Regions from separate parts of the Homo sapiens genome. Here region 2 is linked to region 1. Evidence: fine-mapped expression QTL. Tissue or cell type: whole blood. Region 1 holds a variant in brackets; the other region holds the start of a gene. All regions are shown on one strand. Distances are between the middles of the regions.

Evidence for each region. PIP is the estimated chance that this variant, and not a neighbour inherited with it, causes the effect.
Region 2: it holds the start of ALPL, and the variant in region 1 is fine-mapped to the expression of ALPL in whole blood (INTERVAL, PIP 0.96).

Annotation. Positions count from the first base shown.
Region 1 is chr1:21,542,690-21,552,967 of GRCh38, reverse strand. All of the region lies in intron 1 of ALPL (alkaline phosphatase, biomineralization associated), which reads right to left. Among named protein-coding and RNA genes, the nearest start is that of ALPL, 38 kb to the right of the region's middle. The variant G/A (reference allele first, on the strand shown) is at 6,200.
Region 2 is chr1:21,505,265-21,514,403 of GRCh38, reverse strand. It overlaps ALPL (alkaline phosphatase, biomineralization associated), which reads right to left and starts at 4,981. Exons shown (of 12, transcript NM_000478.6): 1 at 4,887-4,981. RefSeq lists enhancers at 3,898-4,467, 4,468-5,038 and a silencer at 5,074-5,173.

The sequences.
Region 1 (10,278 bases):
GCTGAGAAATGTACTAACCCTGTTGCACATGAGTTACAAGACAAAGAATTTTAAGTGGCAAGAGTTTCACTGGGAAATGTTATTGCTTCAGCCAAAACCAAGATATGACACCATTTGTTGTGGGAAACAGCAGTAATACACACTCTACCGTTAGAAAAGTGTTGTGACAGATAAGACACCACTCTAGTCCAATTATTATATGTTAAGTAAAAACAAAATAAAACATTTTTTAAAAGTTGTTTAAAGAAAAAAAGCCAGGCATGGTGGTAACATGCCTGTAATCCCAGCTACTTGGGAAGCTGAGGCTGGAGGAAGTTCGCTTCAGGCCTGGAGTTGGAGACCAGCCTGGGCAACACAGCGAGACCCTGTCTCTAAGAAAAATTTTTGTATTTTAATTTTTTAAAAGTTTCTTTTCTTTTTAAAAATTCTTCTCTTTGCAGCTCCAGCTCAAAGGAAAAAGATTTTTTCTTTTTCTTTTTTTTTTTTTTGAGACGGAGTTTTGTTCTTGTTGCCCAGGCTGGAGTGCAATGGCACAACCTCGGCTCACTGCAACCTCCGCCCCCCGGGTTCAAGCAATTTTCCTGCCTCAGCCTCCCGAGTGGCTGGGATTACAGGCTTGCGCCACCATGCCCGGCCAATTTTGTATTTTTAGTAGAGATGGGGTCCATGTTGGTCAGGCTGGTCTCGAACTCCCGACCTCAGGTGATCTGCCCACCTTGGCCTCCCAAAGTGCTGGGATTACAGGTGTGAGCTGCCGCGCCCATCCAAGATTTTTTTTTTTAATTTAAAAATAGAGAAAAAGAAAAGGAGAAAAGGAAGGAGGGAGGGGAGGGGAGGGGAGGGAGGAAAGGGAAGGGGAGGAAAGGGAAGGGAAGGGAAGGGAGAAAAAGAAACCACTACCACCAGAAGAAGGATCTTGATTCAACCTTAAAAACACGCAAATGGCCGGGCGCGGTGGCTCACGCCTGTAATCCCAGCACTTTGGGAGGCCGAGGCGGGCGGATCACGAAGTCAGGAGATCGAGACCATCCTGGCTAACACAGTGAAACCCCGTCTCTACTAAAAATACAAAAAATTAGCCGGGAGAGGTAGCGGGCGCCTGTAGTCCCAGCTACTCAGGAGGCTGAGGCAGGAGAATGGCGTGAACCCGGGAGGCGGAGCTTGCAGTGAGCCGAGATCGCGCCACTGCACTCCAGCCTGGGCGACAGCGAGACTCTGTCTCAAAAAAAAAAAAAAAAAAAAAAAAAACCACGCAAGCTGCGCTCCAGTGCCAGAAGTGACGGCTCTGGGGTAGGGGCTGGGGGTAGCGGCGCAGAGTGGAAATTAAAAGGCAATATCCCACATCTAACATCTAACAACACTTAACTGTGAGTGGTAGAATTTGGAATTTCAGATGATTCCTACATTTTTTTTTTTGTTCTACTTTACGGTTTCCAAATATTTCTATAGCAAATCCTAAAATCAGAAAAATGTTATTAACTGAATACGAAATACTAATTCATTAAACTATTATTTAAAATCACTTAAAAATGAAGTCACCTCTTTCAGGAAGGCTCCAGGATGGTCACTCACTCATTCCAATATAACACCACTGAGCTTCATGCCACCTCAAACATCGCATGTACCTCTCTTTTTGAAGGTAATATAGTTCTTTCCTGGGCCATCTCAGCTGCCACACCGGGAGTTTCTAAGTGTGAGGACTTTGTCTTGTTTGTCTCTGCCCTCCTAGTGCTTGGCATAGTAAATATTTACATCAGTTGAAAGCCAGTGCCCTAAGGAAGGTTGTGGGGGGAAGGGAAGAGCCATCCAAAATTATCTTCTCTGTGTGTGCAGGAAAGTCCAAGAGTTCGTGAAGATGTTTAACTACCGGAAGGTCCGCTCGCCGTTGGTGGAGTGCAGACAGGCACAGCGCATGGGAAAACCGGCAGGATCTACCGAAGCTGATCATCCTACCTGTACCCTGGGACCCGTTTCTCTCCAGCAGAATGTGCACATCAGCCCTGTTTATAATGGCTTCAAAACTGCCTCCATCTACGGCAGGCTGGATAATACATTGTGTGTGTTCACAACACAGAAACCACCACAGACAGCAAGGAGAATGGATGATCCACAGCTCCTCACAACAACATGAATGAATCGCACAAGGTAAGCTTGAGCAAAGGAAGCTAAACCCAAGAGCACTTACAGTGTGATTCCGATGACAGAAAGTATAAAAACTAACCCAGGGCGTTGGGAGACAGAACGGAGGCTCCACGTGGAGGGTACGGAAACGGGAACGGGCTGCTGGGGTGCTGGTGCGGTTCGGTTTATGATTGATCTGGGTGGGTGGGTGCTGGTTACACGGTGGGTTCAGCTGTCAATGTATGATACACACATTTTTCTCTACGTGCATTTTATTTCAATAAAATAAATACTACTCTTTGGGAGCTTACATGAACAATCTATAAAGGATACTGACAAAATGAAAGCAAGTCTATGTGCTGCACTCCATAGTTCATAAAGAATTTCACCATGATGTTTCACTAATCAGCTATGCAGTGGACAGAAAAGGACCTATCATCTCCTTTTACAGATGAGAAAACCAAGGCTCTGGACGGAGACTTGCCCAAGGTTACCAACAGGAAGTTGCAGAGCAGAAACCTGACCACAGGGCTCCTGATTCCAGAATTAGCAATCAGGTTACCATCAGTCACCCCCTCCAGAGGGAGGGATTTCTGTTGCCCCCAAGTGTAAAATGAGTGTTCTGACGTTTGACACATGGATAGATTTATGTAACCACCACCGCCACCGTCAGGACCCAGAACAGCTCTGCCACCCCAAAAATCTCTCTTGCGTTCTTTATAGTTACACAATCCCCCCATCCCTAAACCTGGCGATCCCTGATCTGTCCTCCACCACTGTGTTTTTGATAGGTATGGTATTAAATCCACAGATCAATGTGGGAGGGTTTACGTCTATACCACATGGAGTTGCCCAGTCATGAAGACACCACGTCTCTCCACTCATTCAGTCAGAGTTCTTCGGTTTTATCAGCACTCTGTAGTCTTCAGCCTGTAGATCTTGGATATGTTTTCTTAGATTTATACCTACGGGTTCCATCGTGTAATGGTTAGCATTCTGGACTCTGAATCCAGATTTATACCTAAGAATTTTGCTTTTTGGGGAACTATTGTAAATGGCAATGTTTCTGAGCCATATACTACCGAGCCAAGTGCGATGGCTCACACCTGTAATCCCAGCACTTTGAGAGGCTGAGGCGGGTGGATCCCTTAAGGTCAGGTGTTTGAGACCAGCCTGGCCAACATGGTGAAACTCTCTCTACAAAAATTAGCTGGGCATGGTGGTGTGCACCTGTAGTCCCAGCTACCTGAGAGGCTGAGGCAGGAGAATCACTTGAACCCAGGAAGCAGAGTTTGCAGTGAGCTGAGATCGCATCACTGCAGTCCAGCCTGGGCAACAGAGTGAGACTCCATCTCAGAAAAAAAAAAAAAAGAAAAAGAAAAAAGCATTCAGCCTTTCGGCGTTTGGGGTGGTCTTTTGAGGCGTGAGGTGGAGACAATCAGGAACTTGTTTTTGGATATGTTGAGTTGGAGATGTCTTTTAGAAGTGGAGACACTAAGGAGGCAGCTGAATATTTGGCTCTGGCATTTGAAAAAGAAGTCTGGGTTAGAGTATAAATTTGGGAATCATAGGCACAGGGGTGGCAGTTAACACCCTGATCAAACTTGACGTGCTCACCTAGGGAGAGGGAATGGGGTCACAGAAAACGATGTGACAGAAGCCCTCAGCAAACCAGGTATTGAAAAGAATTTCCTTAATCTGATAAAGGCTTTATGCCAAGAACCTGCAGAAACCATCATACTCGCTGGAGAAAGCTTTGGCAAACTCCTTTTAACACTGGCTTATGATGGTGAGGAGCCGGGGCAGTCTCGTCCACAACTAGGGAAATGAATTAGTAAGGAGTGGTGGAGGCAATGTCTGCGTGGCAGTGGTATTAAAACTAGATGTCCAAACAGCAGCGTGGTGGGGTCTAAAGGCAGAGGACTGAGTGATGAATGTAAAGAATCAAACGCAGTGTATGTAAGTGCAAACCACCCCCACGGACAGAATGCTGTGTAACGTACAAGGACACTTACAACTCCAAGGCCATATTAAGTACATTAGCATAGGGACTTCGGTGAGCTGTGGGAATGGCAGTGGGGAGGCAGGGAGCAGGGACAAAGGAAAAAATGAATAAACAAAACAAGAACTGAGAGCTTATTTGGGTATGTCATGTGCTAAGTGAGATAACGTATCCCACTCTCTCTGCACTGAGGGTCCAAAACAGGTGAGCGAATAAAGAAAAATAAAAGTGTAGTGACCCGGGAGCACTGAAAGGCTCATCCAGCCCCACATGATTATTCTTCCGGTTATTGGTCTGTCTCTCCTCCCTGCTAGCCTGAAGCTCTGTGAACGTAAAGACCAACATCTTACCCATCTCTGCATCCCGAGCCCTTGCACATGGTAGCAGTTCCATAAGTGCCACCAGTTCAGGCTGGGATGCTCTGAATTTTGGCCCCAGGGATAGGCATTGAGATAGGCTTGGCCTGGAGGCAGGTGCCTTCTCCCATAGCCTCCGCTCAGGACAAGGAGAGGGTGGGGACCTGGGAAAGCCTTCAGAACCCAGAGCCTCCCTGCTGGCCCCACCCCTAGGACCCCTCCCCCTCGCAGAGGCTCCTGGCTGCTCTGTGGCAGCCCTGGAAGCGGAGGGGCCCAGTTTGGGGCTGTGGGGGCCCCGGCTGCCCACCACCCTCTGCCAATGTCTGCCAGCTTAAAATGGGGCCTCCGGGTGTGTGTCAGCCCCATCGCCACCCCCTCCCTCCCTTCTCTGCCAGGCTCCCGGCTCCTCCGTAGCCTGATTACGCATGGCCAGTGCAGAAGCCCCGGCTAGGCTGTGGCGCCAGAGGAGCAGCTACTTGGCAGTTCAGTGCAGGGGGCTGAGGAGCCAGGCAGGCCTTAGCTCTGAGGACTGATTCAGCAACCCAGGCAGAGGGCCCGGGAGCATCCTGGAGTGGGGCAAAAAGCCAGCCTTGGGCTGGGTCTCAGAAGATCTGGGGCAAATGATAGAAGAATGGGACAAACGTGTCACTACCATTTCTTAGGCCCTCATGTTCCACTCAGCCCCATGCTGTTTACATCCCTGATCTCACAATATGGATGAAGAGCCCCCGTTTTGTAGCTTAGGAAACCCAACAGAGGGTTTGGCTAGTCTTCGACTATGCGCCATTTAAGCCCAGGCTGACGCCAGGGCTCAACCTCTCCGGGCCTTGGTTTCCCCACCATGAAGAGTAAGAGAAATGAGTGCCCCGCTTGCTCCATCTCACGAGAACAAATGGAAGCTGAACGAGCTTAGGGCAGGGAATTTGGCGGGATGCAGGGGGAGTCAGGCCAGCTGAGTTCCCCTACCTGAGCGGCCTGGCCAGGCGGCAAGTGAAGAAACAAAGGAGGCCCAGGATCAGCCCCAGGAGGAGGAGGCTGAGGGCCACCGTGAGGACCACATCCAGGATGGGGGACAGGAGGGCCATCTTGGGGCAAAGAGGGCCCCTGGGAGCAGCCACCACGCCCTGCACACACTCGGTCACACTAGCTCCAAAGCCCTGGGTCAGTGGCCGTGACCCGCTTTATCCCTGGGTTAATCTTTGTGGATTAGTCAGAAGGGATGAAACGGGGTGCTGGGGTGGGAGGGGGAGCAGGCTACGAAGCTCCTCTCTCCCATTTGAGCCCCGGGGGAGGGCCCGATGCTTGTTCATTCAACTTTGTTCATTCATTCCTCACTCCCAAACACCTACAGAGCACCTGCTGAGTATCTCTGTGCTAGGTTCTATGGAAACAGTCGGGAACGGGACAGAGTTTCTGTCAGCTTGGAGGTAACTGACCAGCCAGTGTGGACAAAGCACCTACTGTATGCTAGACATTGTGCCAGGTGCCCTGTGGGGCAAAAACATGGAAGGGAACCCCTTGGCTAGTAACACAGTAGGTTTTCCCCTAACAGCAGCAGCTGTTCCAGCCCATCTATGGGCCTAGAAATCTGAGTTGGTGCTTACCCCAGCCAGAGGGATGCACCCATGCTCAGAAGAAGACGAACTGCTCTTATTGAGCACCAACTGTGTACCAGGCCCCATCTGGGCTAGGGACTAGTATCCCCATTTGCAGAGAAACA[G/A]AGGCTCAGAGGTGCAATGGTGGAGTTGGGATTTAAGCCCAAATCTGGGGGTCTCCACGGCCCGTACCTCAGAACTGAGATAGCAGCAGCCTACGGAGGCTTTAGTGAAGCCCTGCCAGGCGCTGGCCTAAAGCCAGCAGTCACCCAGGAGGCAGCACACACAGGCTGGAGGTGGACGAGCTGTTGCCAGCACGGAGGGGCCTTTTCTGCTTCCAAAATTGTCTCCCCAACCCAGATCCAATCTCTCCTAAAACATCCTGTGAAGTCAGGAGAGTGGTTATGATTCCCATCTCACAGATTCAGAAACGGCCCAGAGAGGTCAAGCCACTTGGATATGCACAGCTGTGCACCATTAGACCAGGCCTTTTCTGATCACACTTCCTGTCTCCTGGTACACCTCAGATCCCATGGTCCAAAATACCCAAGGTCAGGAGGAGACACTTTTACCCTCTTGGTGCCAAGGAAAGTCCCCTCTTCTTGACCCCAGAAAGGCCACTGACCTCACCATAACAGGAAAACTAATCTCGTTACTCCATTACGCCCTTTTCTTTCTCAACATTCCCGTAACTCAAATTGCGTCAGATCCTCACAACATCCTAGTGATACTGGCAGGGTGGGGATTATTAGCCCTATTGATAAAAGAAAAACTTCAGCTGAATTAAATTTAAAAGAATTGCCTGCAATCCCAGCACTTTGGGAGGCTGAGGTGGGTGGATCACGAGGTCAGGAAATCGAGACCATCCTGGCCAACATGATGAAACCCCGTGTCTACTAAAAATACAAAAATTAGCTGGGCATGGTGGTGTGTGCCTATAATCCCAGCTACTCGGGAGGCTGAGGCAGGATAATCGCTTGAACTAGAGAGTTAGAGGTTGCAGTGAGCTGAGATCGTGCCACTGTACTCCAGCCTGGCAACAGAGCGAGACTCTGTCTCAAAATAAAATAAAATAAAATATAAAAAAATAAATTTAAAAGAGTTTAATTGAGCAATGAACGATCTGCAAATTAGGCAGCCTCCTGAGCCGGAGTAGGAACCAGCGCAGCCACTTAGTAGAAGAAGATTTATGAACAGAAAAGGAAAGTGAGGTGCAGTCAGATTGGTTACAGCTTAGCACTTGTCATTTGAACACGGTTTGAACAGTTGGCGACATTTGATTGGCTAAAACTTGGTAATTGGTGGCTGGGCATGGTGGCTCACTCCTGTAATCCCAGCACTTTGGGAGGCTGAGGAGGGTGGATCACCTGAGGTCAGGAGTTCGAGACCGGCCTGGCCAACATGATGAAACCCTGTCTCTACTAAAAATACAAAAATTAGCTGGGCATGGTGGCAGGCGCCTGTAATCCTAGCTACTTGGGTGGCTGAGGCAGGAGAATCGCTTGAACCCGGGTGGCGGAGGTTGTAGTGAGCTGAGATTACAATGCTGTACTCCAGCCTGGGCGACAGAGTGAGACTCTGTCTTAAAAAAAAACAAAAACAAAAACAAAAACAAAAAAACCCCCAAAACTTGGTGATTGGCACAAGTGTAGGCTATAGTCTGTTTACACCTCTATTTCTTATAGTTTACAATGTAGAGAAACTGCTAGGCTGAACTTAAAATATGTAAGAAGGCAGCATTAGGCTAGATTTGATTTAATAATTCCCTTCTTTTAGTTATTTTTTAAATTTTGAGACATTGACCAAAACGAGTCACTGATGTCACTATCACCATTGTAAATGTACTTATTTGGTCTCGAAACCCACTGGGAAACAGTAGGACAGTGGGTTTTGTAAGGTGGGAATAAAGACTTTAGGTTATTTTTTTTAAGGGTTAGAGGGTATTTTTTTTAATGTTGGAATGTCCTGTTTACAAGAAAAAAAAACAAAACAAAACCTGGTTTTAGCATTTATGTGTTCTTTTTAAAGTTTTAGTTTGATGATATCACATTTAGCACAAGTGACTCTATTTAGGTTTCGTCTGGTCTCTTGGGGCCTAGTGTATGCATTTAGTCCAAAACAACAGCCTCTCATAATTTTGTTTTTGTTTTGAGACAGTTTCACTTTGTCGCCCAGGCTGGCATGCAGTGGCACGGTCTTAGCTCACTGCAACCTCCGCCTTCCAGGTTCAAGCAATTCTCGTGCCTCAGCCTCCTGAGTAGCTGGGACTACAGGCGCATGCCACCATGCCCAGCTGATTTTTTTGTATTTTTTAGTAGAGACGGGGTTTCACCATGTTGCCCAGGCTATTCTTGAACTCCTGAGCTCAGGCAATCCACATGCCTCGGCCTCCCAAAGTGCTAGGATTACAGGTGTGAGCTACCACGCCCAGCTCATAATTTTGTTTTAAAATTCCCCCTTTTTGGTCAGGTTCTCACTTAGGTGAGAGTGTGACCCAAACTTAGGGCCTTAGCACCACTCTCAGTCACCACATTTTGAAACCAAGGCCTAGCAATGAAGTCACTGGGTGAGCTGTCACACAGCCAGCAAATCTGATCCAAGCCCAAGCTCCACCACTTCCCAGGTGTGTGTTGCTGGGTCAGTCCCTGCACCTCCGAAACTGTTTCCTTTGGCGTCTAACATTGGTTTCCCATTCAAGAACTACGGTGCACCAGGTGCTGACTGTGACACACCTGACCTGCTGTGTCCTCATTAACAACCCTGAGAGTGAGACAGAGCTGTCCCCCTTTACAGGTGAGAAAATGGAGGTCCACTTGGCCATGGTGAAGAGGTCACATCGATGGCAGGTACTGGGCCAGGCCCTGCACAGGCCTCCATGTGGGACCTACCCAGGGACACCCCTGTGCCAAGCTCTCTCCACCTCAGCTCAGCCGGGGGCCTTCCCCATCCAAGCCCACCCAGCTCCCAGGCCTGCTCCAAGGACACCCTCCAAGGCTCTACCAAGCAGCCTAATAAACTGATGTGCCTCCAGGGAGCATCAGCTGGTATGCCCCAGCTTGTACCTGGCAGGACTCACAGGGTCAGGTATTTGCCCTTAGGGAGCCCCCGGTCTAGAGCACGCAGCCCCAGACTGTCCAGGCTGGGAAGGTCTTTTGCGATTTCCCAAATGCCCCGAGCCACAAAAATCACTTGAGGTGCTTATGGAAAAAGTCTTATTCCCAAGTGGTTACCTTGGGAGGAGGATTGACTAGGCGGTGCATGAAGGAACTTCCTGGGGCAATGGAAATGTTTTGTTTTGTTTTTTTTCAGATGGAGTTTCACTCTTGTCGCCAAGGCTGTAGTGCAATGGCGTGATCTCGGCTCATGGCAACCTCCACCTCCCAGGTTCAAGTGATTCTCATGCCTCAGGCTCCCGAGTAGCTGGGATTACAGTGTTTCTGCCCGGCCGGTCTTTATCATGACCTGAGAAGTAGTTAAACGTGTGTATATTTGTGAAAAGTTGTCGAGGGGCTAATCGTCCCTACCCTGTCTATATCGTGAGGTTTTTGGGGAGGAGCTGATGAGATTTCAATAAAGGGAGTGTTGGGGAAAAAAAGGGTTTAGTGGAGGGATGTGACTATATGCAAGTTTAAAAGGACAGATTAGAAAGACATAACAGCCCCCTAAATAAATTCCTACTTCTCCTATTCCAGACCTACTCGGTCAGAATCTCCCAGGTCAGGGCCTGGGAAGCTGTTTTTTTATTTTTTGTTTTGAGACAGGGTCTTACTCTGTCGCCCAGGCTGGAGTGCAGTGGCACGATCATAGTTCACTGCAGCCTTAAGCGATCCTCCTGCCTCAGCCTCCCAAGTAGCTGGGACTACAGGCACACATTACCACATTTGGTTAATGTTTACATTTTTAAAATAGAGGTGGGGTCTCACTATGCTGCCCAGGCTAGTCTCGAACTCCTGGGTTCAAGTGATCCTCCTGCCTCAGCCTCCCAAAATGCTTGGATTACAGGTATAAGCCGCTGTGCCCAGCTGGAAGCTGTATTTTTTTGGTGGGGGGATTGGGGGGATGGAGTCTTGCTCTGTCACCCAAGCTGGAGTGCAGTAGCGCAATCTCGGCTCACTGCAACCTCCGCCTTCAGAGTTCAAGCGATTCTCATGCCTTAGCCTCCCTAGTAGCTGGGATTGCAGGCCCACCACCATGCCCGGCTAAT
Region 2 (9,139 bases), 38 kb after region 1:
GCACAGGGCTGTTAGGGAGCACAGGGTGAAGTGGCGCACCAATGCACAGGGCTCTTGGGGAGCAAGGGGTAAGGTGGAAGCTGTCAAGGGAGTCTCTTCCCTGCAGGGGCTGTGCAATCTTTAGAATGAAGTACCCAGCGATGCCTGTCCCCAGCTAGACCCTGGGCTCAACTCGCTGAGCCTTGACAGGTAGATGCTCTATCACCCCCAAACCTCCAGAGCCCTCAGACTCTTCCTGAGGACCACCGAAGCAGGAAAAAAGCTCCTTCGCCTAGCTGACATGTTTTGTAGATGTTGCCAGGCTATGGAAGAGGGGCTAGTGTCCACGTGTCCCATATTCTCACCCTGAGCCCCCTGAGGGCTGGCCCAAGCCCCACACAATCATTCAAGTGGAATTTGAGCCCCTCTTACATGGCCTCACTGCATCTAGCCCAGAAACCGCAAGCTCAGAAGGTAGGTAGGTAATGTCAGGGAGGCAGGTGGGCAAGTGTGAGGCAGTGGGGCGTGGTGGAGACTGTGGTAAAGTGGATGGAGCAGCTGCTAATCAGCTCCAGCCACTGTGGCCAGGCAGGGACATAGCCCCATATGGCCACATCTTCTGATCTTTCAAGAGAAGCCAGAAATCCTTATCTTTATATAAAATGAAATTGCCTGGTTTAAAAACACCAGCAACTAAATAAAAGTTGTTTAATCACCGCAAAAGTCAACAATCCCCCACCCCCTGCAGCCTTAGGAAGGCAGTTTGTGATGGATCTCCCATAACCCAGCACACAGCAGGCTATAAATATCTGAGGACCAGTTGAATACATTAGACCCATTCCAAGTCTTAGGGAAGTCTCATCTCTCCACTCCTACTCCTCAGATATATTGGTTTACAGATGAAGAATCTGAGACTCAGACAGGGGAAGTGACTTGCCCAAGGTCACAGAGGTATTCAAGGACTTCAGCTCAGCTCTCCTGAGCTTAATATCTTTTTCCACCAACCCACATCATCTGCATCCTCCCTTAAACAATGATTTTCAAAAAACAGATATGCTAAGAATATACTGTAGAAATGAAACACACCAAATTCAGGAGAGTGGTTGCCTTTGGAAAGATCATGTAGCTTAAGGCCAGGAGACTGAATTCCCAGTCCACTCTGCCCTAAGCAATTGTGTGACCCTGGGCAAGCCTCTTCTCCTCTCTGGGCCTCAGTCTCCCTGGTGCACCAAGAGCCCAGTTGACCGAGCCAGCTTCTAAAGGCCTTCCAACTGAAATTCTGGGGATCTATGTCTCCTCTCTGGCCAGTACTCTGTGGCCTCAGATGAATACAAAATAGTAATAATAATAATAATAATAATAATAGAGAGGGCGAGTCCACACCAGCCAGGAAAGAACACTACGACTTTTTGTGAAACCTGACTCCTGGTTACTGGAATTCAGAAAGAACGATGGTAATACTTGAGCAGCTTAACCACCATCCTACAATTAAACAAAAGCACATCTGGTTTAACTTCGTCCTCATCTCCTCCCTAACCCCCTACTCTCATCTCAAATTTTACCCCTTAATTTGAGAAGTCAAATTCAATGCAAACAATTGATTTCATGCCACAGTGAGGCTGAGAATTTAAGCATGGAAAACTTTAAGCATAGAGTTTTTCTGGGAGCAATTAACGAAGTGTTGGCGGGGGGGTTGGGAGCTGGTACAAGGAGGCAGAAAAATACGGAGACTATGTTCTTCAGACACTGAGCATCATATCTTGATGTTGGGGGCCTCCTATGAGCTTGACACTCAGAGAGGTAAAGTGACTTGCCTCAGGTCACACAGCTGGCGATTGGAATCCAAGACACCAGCCCCCAAACCAGTGTTTTCCCTGCTGTGTAGGCTTTTGTGACCTAAACGTGGACTTCCCTCAGGCCCTCAGGATCACCTGGTAGGGATAAAGTTAACTGCTTTTGAAATTGCTCCACAGGAAATATGAATGTCTTAATAACATCAATGCTGGTTCAGCCCAAAGTTGGAAAACCATTTATGATCTTGCGACCCTGCAAAGTATATAATTTTAACCCATATTGCAGATGAGAAAACTGAGGCTTCGAAAGGGAAGGTGACTTGTCCAGGGTCGCATGGCAGTGCTGGGAATGAACCTTCAGTCTACTGCCCCTAACTGCCCTCTGAAAGTGAGGACATCTCCAGAAGAAAAAAAACAAATCTAACATACCACAAAGCCCAGCTCCAGCCTGCCAAGGACGACGACATGGTGCTGGGAAGCCAAGTCAGCATTCCTGTGGCCACATGGAGATTTCTGAGTGCTGGTTCTCAGCCCAGCTTGCTCACTCTCCCAGCAATGTTCTCTCAGAGCTCTGGGTTTTGTATTAAAAAGCCAAGTCAGACTGATTTCAAGGTGAGAACTCGGGCTCTGCTACTGGATCCTACTCCCTGGATTAAAAGGCCTCATATGCCCAGAGATGGGTACAGCATGGAGATTGCTAGATTTGGAATTCTAGATACGCAGGCTCCAGCCCCAGCTCCTCAGGTAGCATCTGTGTGCCTCTGGGCAACTCACTTCCCCTTTCCAAGATCATATCCAGCTTGCAGGGAATGTTGGGTATGTAAGTCATGGGACAGAACAGGGCTGAGTTTGGTCCTGAGCTAGGACACGGTGAGGCACAAGAACAGGCAGAGGGCAGGAAGCGCTGCAGAGATGATGGCTCCAGGGCTGATCTCATCATGGAGCTCTGCGCTCCCAGCCCAGGCTGTGTTTAGGATGGCGACAGAAGGTGGCATCTGAGTGTGAGCAAAGAGGGCACCATGCCACCCCACATGTGTAGCCCAACAGGATGGGAAGGGCCTGGGCAGAAGTGGGTAACAGGTTCAGAGGCAGGGTAGGCACATAACCCAACTTCCAGTCTCCGCATTGCATTTTCTGCTGAGAAGAGAGCTGAGGATAGCCAGGATTTTCTTAAGCACAGGTACCAGCTTAAACCCTTCGCAAGCATTCATCATATCTAGACCTCACCACTGGTAGGCACTATTGATCTCCACAGCTTATGGGAGGAGGCCGAGGCACAGAGAGGGAACAGAACTGATCCCAGGTCCCACAGCAAGGCTGCCTTTGCTAAAGTGAGGGCCAAAGGTTGGCCAATCCATTTTACAGGTGATTGCGTCTTAATCTCCTTCCTTATGAATAGCTTGATTTCAAGTCTACACTGTGAATTCTGACAGTTTCAAAGCCTGAAAGAATTTTGTTATGCAAACATCCAATCCAGAAGAGGGCTTTTGGCTGATTTACTGTGGCATTCCCGGCACCTAGAACAGAGCTTGGCACACGGCGGATGCTTAAGTATTTGCTGAATGAAGATAGCATCTTGTTCTGGCCTCAGTTCAGTTTTATTCCTCACAATAGTCCCGAAAGGGGAATACACCCCTTTTTACAAATGGGCACATGGACCGGGATCATCACTCAGCCTAGTCTTCACCAGTTGGGATGTTGAGAAGCTGTGTCCAGGGGCCTCTTCTGAGGGAATTCACAGGTATTCAGTTAAAGAAAGAAAAAGGTGACACAGGAACAAGATGCATGGGGCCAGGGAGTGGGATGGCTGGGGCAGGACAGCGTGGGGACACCCACAGGTGGGGAGGACTAAACAGTTGGAAAGAGCAAGACTGGAGAGTGGAGGAAGAGCGGGCTGAGCCCAGGAGGAGCCGGAAGACAAAACCAAGGCTCAGCCCCCTATCTCTTAGGCAACACAGTGGGAGCAGGACGCTAGGGCTGCAGAGTTTGGAGTCTGGATTCAAACCCTGGTCCCACCACTTACTTAAATTGTCTAAGCCTCAGTTTCCCCATTTGTAAAATGAAATGATGTACATGAGATGTCAGAGCAGGTCCCTCTACGCACGGTAGGCCTTCAAAAAACAGTTGCAGTATCTACACTGAGGCTGGGACCCAACCCCTGCCTCCCTGGGCAGCTGGGCCCACCTGAGCGGTCTGACTTTTTCCCAGGGCCCAAAGCCCTTCCTGGCCCAAGAATCGCCCCCTCTTTTGATCTCAAGGAATTTCACCCTCCACCCAGAGGCCTTTGTAAAGGCCCCGCCTTCGACCCCATTATGTGTTGAAAAAGAGTCATAAGGCACAATGGGGAGTGGGGGAGGCTTTCCTCGGCCTCCTGCCTTTCTGCTGAGACCTGCGTTTAACCCTTTCTTACCAAGACTGGGCAGGGAAGCAGCCCTGGGAGGCCCACCTCGCAAAGCCTAAAGGGGGCGGCAGGCTCCTTCGGCTTCGCGGGCTCCAGAGCTTTGCCCCACAGCTGCGGTGCCCACAGTGGGTGCCCACACTTTGACACCCACGCGGGTGTCCTCTGTCTCCTCCCGCCACGCCCCCCATTCCAAGCGCCTCCTGCCCTCTCCTCCTCCCAAACCAAACTGCTTTAGACCCCACCGGGTCAGGTGGGACGCCTGGGAGGGCGCCAGGCCACGAGGCCTTGGGGTTGGCAGCCCAGGTCTCTAGAGCTACGGCTAAGGAGGCACCAGGAGGGGCTCAGTCACGGGGCACCAAGGGCAGGTGCCCAGACAGAGCGCAGGGTCCCAGGCAGCGGCTCGGGAGGTAGGAGACCCTGGGACTGCAGGGCGGTCCCGAGCGCGGTCCCCTGAGTTCGCCGGCTCCGCGGGCGCCACGTCCAATCTCCTGTCCCGCCCAGAGCGCGCGCCGGGAGCTTGGGATGCGCGGGAGGACAGGGGCAGGACCAATTGCAGGGCGTCCCGAATGGGCTGCTGTGGGCGGCGTGGCGCTGGAGACCCCGGCCCTGCCATTAAAGTTCAACCACGGGGCCAGCGGAGGATGCAGAAGGGGATGGACCACGTCCGCTGGGGCCCTGGGGAACCAGGGCGCGGGGCAGCGTCGAATCCTTACCTGCGCAGAGCACTGGCGAGGGTCCGTCCAGGCACAAGCGCGTGGGAGCACGGAGCCAGGATAGCGGGCGCGGAGTGGCGGGAGCGCAACGCGGCCCGGGCCACCACCCCCGCCGCCTTATAAAGGCGGCCGCGGGGCCCGAGTGAGGCCCGGGCAGCCCGCCCCCTCCCCCGCCCCCGGCCCCAACCCCTCCCCAGCCCGGCCCCGGCCCCGCCCCCGGCCCGAGCCCCGCGCCCCGCGGGCCGGTCGTGCCACGAGGCCAGGGCGCCCCCTGCCGGGAGCGGAGCTAGGAACGGGCTGGGGTGACGCGGCCCTGGCGTCCCTCGCCCGCCCCGCACTCTCGGTCTCTCTGCCTCCGGGCTGCCCCAGCCCAGCCCTTCCTCTCTCAGCGAGCCTGGGCTCTGACCTGCTCCTTGCGCGCGTCTCCTGTTTTGTCTTTACCGTCGGCATCTTCCTTCTGCGTCTCTTGGTGGGAGTCTTTGTCTCCACCCGTCTCTTTGTCTGCCTTCCTCTCTGGCGTCTGTCTCTGTGTCTGTCAACATATCTGGCTTTCTCTGGGTCTCTGTCTTTATCCGTCTCTGCCCACGTGTCCCTGTCTCTCTGTCTCTGTCCACGTGCACCTCTGACTCTGCACCCCCACCCCCGCTTCCCTGCCCGTGGGCTGCCTCCCTGGCTACCGCAAGAAGAAGCAGAAGGGGACCTCGGAGGGGTGGCATCTGGAGGGAAACCACCCCCTAGACAGGGGCCCTTCCCTCTTTCTCTCTTTAGAGACGTAAAGGGCCCGCAGGTGTCCGGCTATGTCCCAGCCAGAGCCCCAGGACATGCTCCCTGGATGCCAGAGGAGGGGCAGGCACTTCCCAGGCAGTTGAGTCAGACAGCTCAAGTTCAAAACTCTGCTCTGGTGACCTTGGCCAAGTCACTTGACCTATGTGGACCAGCCTGCCCCTCTTTAACAGGCAGACACCATCTCCCCTGGCCTCTCGCTGGTGCGAGAGTCATATGAGACAGTGCTTGAAAACTACAGAGGAAACGCTAAAATCCCGGATAGACGGGAGCCAGGGACAGAGGCTGGGTGCTACAGGCCCTGCTCCCGCTCCTGGGGAACCAGCTCTGATGGAATAACCACTCCCTTTCCTCTGAGCACTGAATTCTCTGGGCAACTTCGCAGTGAGAAGTCCGCAGGCTCTGTTTGAATGCCTCCAGCGACAGAGCTCACTGACTCCTAACAGGAGGGTCTTCTCAGTGGCCCTTGGGAAAATGTCTGCCCAGAGAACCAATTTTAGCCAGGTCAGGCAACCTCTCTTCCACTCACTCCATGCCAGTCTCAGGGCCAGGCACTGTGCATGCATTAACTTCCAAAAGCTCCATTTTCCAGAGGAGAAAACTGAGGCCCAGAGAGATCATGTGACTTCTCAGTAAGGTTGGAGCCAGAACTGGGGCCTGGTGCCAGAAACCAAGAATGTCTTTGTATTTATTTTTGTTTCTTTTGTATTTTTGGTTGATACTGTTTATTTAGAGGCGTGACATAGGTTCCCTTTTCAGATAAGTTTATGTTTTTTAAAAGTGAGTCAAAATATTGAGTAAATACTATTTATTTATGTATTTCATGGGTTGGGTGATATGGCAAAAATCATGGAGGTAGCAAATGAATGGAGTTTAGGAAATACCATCCTCTGTAAGAAATTGCAGGTGAAAGCACCCAGCACTGGGCCTAAAACATGGGAGGGGCTCAATACTTGCTCACAAATGCCAAGGAAGGGTTTAAGGATTCCAGGAGACTTAAGATGGTATCATCATCAGTGAGCCAGGGGCAAGTCCCCAGGCATGGAAAATCTGCCTGTTGCTTGGACAGAGGCTGGGAGGCAGAGCCAGAGGGAATTGGAGGCACCCATTGCACCTATCATGGGGCCAGCACCCCTGACTTTTTTTTTTTTTTTTTTTTGAGACAGGGTCCCACTCTATTGCCTAGGCTGGAATGCAGTAGCATGATGTCAGCTCACTGCAGCCTCGACCTCCCGGGCTCAAGTGATCTTCCCACCTCAGCCTCCCCAGCAGCCAGGACTACAGGTGTGCACCACCACGCCCGGCTAATTTTTGTATTTTTTTGTAAAGAACAGGGTTTTGCTATGTTGCTCAGGCTGGTCTCGAACTCCTAAGCTCAAGTGATCCCCCTGCCTCCTTATCCCAAAGTGATGGGATTACAGGCATGAGCCACCACACCCGACCCTATCCCTGACTTCTGATCTCCCCAAAGCTATGAGGGACGGGCACTTCTGGTTGAGCCACATGGCCAGCATTAGGTCCCCCATGTCTGTGATTTGCCCTCAAGTCCCTCCACCTCGGGATTTCAGGGATTGGTTATCAGCAGCAGGGACTATACTGCTTGGCCAGCCCTGCCACCTTCCACCCTCAAACCCTCTTACTCTGCTCCTGGGCTGGGTCCCTCAAGGAGAATTCAACTGAGATGGGGCATCCAGCAGCCCTTGCCTCCCCTGCTCCCCGGGTGCCCCTCCTCCTGGCTCTGTCAACACAGCGGAAAGAAGTCCTGGACCTGGAACCAGGAGACTCCAGTCCATCCTCCAGCTCTGCCCTGGCTTGCTGGGGAGCTGAGCAAGTCACTTTTCCCATCGAGGTTCAGATTCCTTCTGGCCTTTTGAACTGGACAATCTCTAAGTGCAACCCAGATGCCATGATTTCAGGACCACTCAGCTGGTGGCAACAGCTCATTACATTCGATTTCTCTCCATCATTGTCCCTGGGGCACCACTTCCTTGTTGAAAACTAAACAAATTGGATTTAACCTCCAAGCTCCCTGTGCCTAAGAGCTAATGATGTCTTTTGAGTCTCACAGCAGTATCATAAGGTGGGCAGGGCAGGTGTTTACAATCCCCACTATACATGGGGTACACCAAGGCCAGAGATAGTAGTTACTTACAGGTCAGGGTCAGAGCTGGGTTTGGTTACCAGGTTTACTATTCCCAGTCCAGGGCTTTTTCCATTCATCCATTTATTCCGTATCTGTTAAGTGCATGCCATGAGCCTGTGCCGCAAGCTAGACCTTCAAGTTCACTAGGCAGGCCAGGCATGGTGGCTCACGCCTGTAATCCCAGCACTTTGGGAGGCCAAGATGGGAGGGTCTCTTGTGTCCAGGAGTTAGAGTCTGCAGTGAGCTATGATCACACCCCTGCACTCCAGCCTGGCCAACAGAGTGAGACTTTGTCTTGGGAAAAAAAAATTTAAGAGGTTCACCAGGCATTAGAATTAGAAGCTAAGTTAGGCCGGGCGTGGTGGCTCATGCCTGTAATCCCAGCACTTTGGGAGGCTAGGCAGGTGGATCACCTGAGGTCCGGAGTTTGAGACCAGCCTGGCCAACACGGTGAAACCCCGTCTCTACTGAAAACATAAAAATTAGCCGAGCAAGGTGACGCACACCTGTAGTCCCAGCTACTTGGGAGGCTGAGGCACGAGAAACGCTTGAACCCTGGAGGCAGAGGTTGCAGTGAGCTGAGATCACGCCACTACACTCCAGCCTGGGTGACAGAGTGAGACTCTGTTTCAAAAAAAGAAAGGAAAAGAAGAGAAAAAATTAGAAGCTAAGTTAGAGATGAGGCCAGAAGCCCAAGAGCATAGGGTAGGGTGGGGCAGGGGGACAGCCAGGACCTCAGTAGACAGAGATAAAGGAGAAAGAAAGGAGAGAGACAGAGAAAACAAAACTCTGAGGTCTGTTCGTGGAGAGGCGGTGAGGAGTCAGCTGTGGTCTAGGGCTGGAGAAAATAATCCCTGAAATCTATTTAAAGGCAAGGGGGCCTGAAACCTTGGTCTGTTTTGATGCTTGGACTAAAGGGGTCATTTTATCTCAAGCCCAGGCCTGAGCACAAGTTCAGCCATTTGATTCCCAGTGCCACCTACAGCCCCACCTTTAACTCAGTTAAAAAATGAACCAAAAGGCATGAGGTGGAAGAGACTACGACAGCCGAAGCAGCATCATTAAACCGACAATGCTGCCGTGGCCAGGGCAATTGGACGCTAATAAAAGTAGGGACTTTTATTCTCTCTTCACGGATGAGGAAACTGAAGCATATATGAGCTATTGTTGCTGGGGACTCCCTCTGTGTCTGCAGCCTGATGGAAAGATCTTTATAGGTGAGATTTAACTTGCTCCTCCCTGCAACACCAAAGCACCATCACTGTTGTCATCGTCACCTTTCCAGTGAGCAGGCTGTTATCCCAGGCAGACTTGGCAACCTTATTCA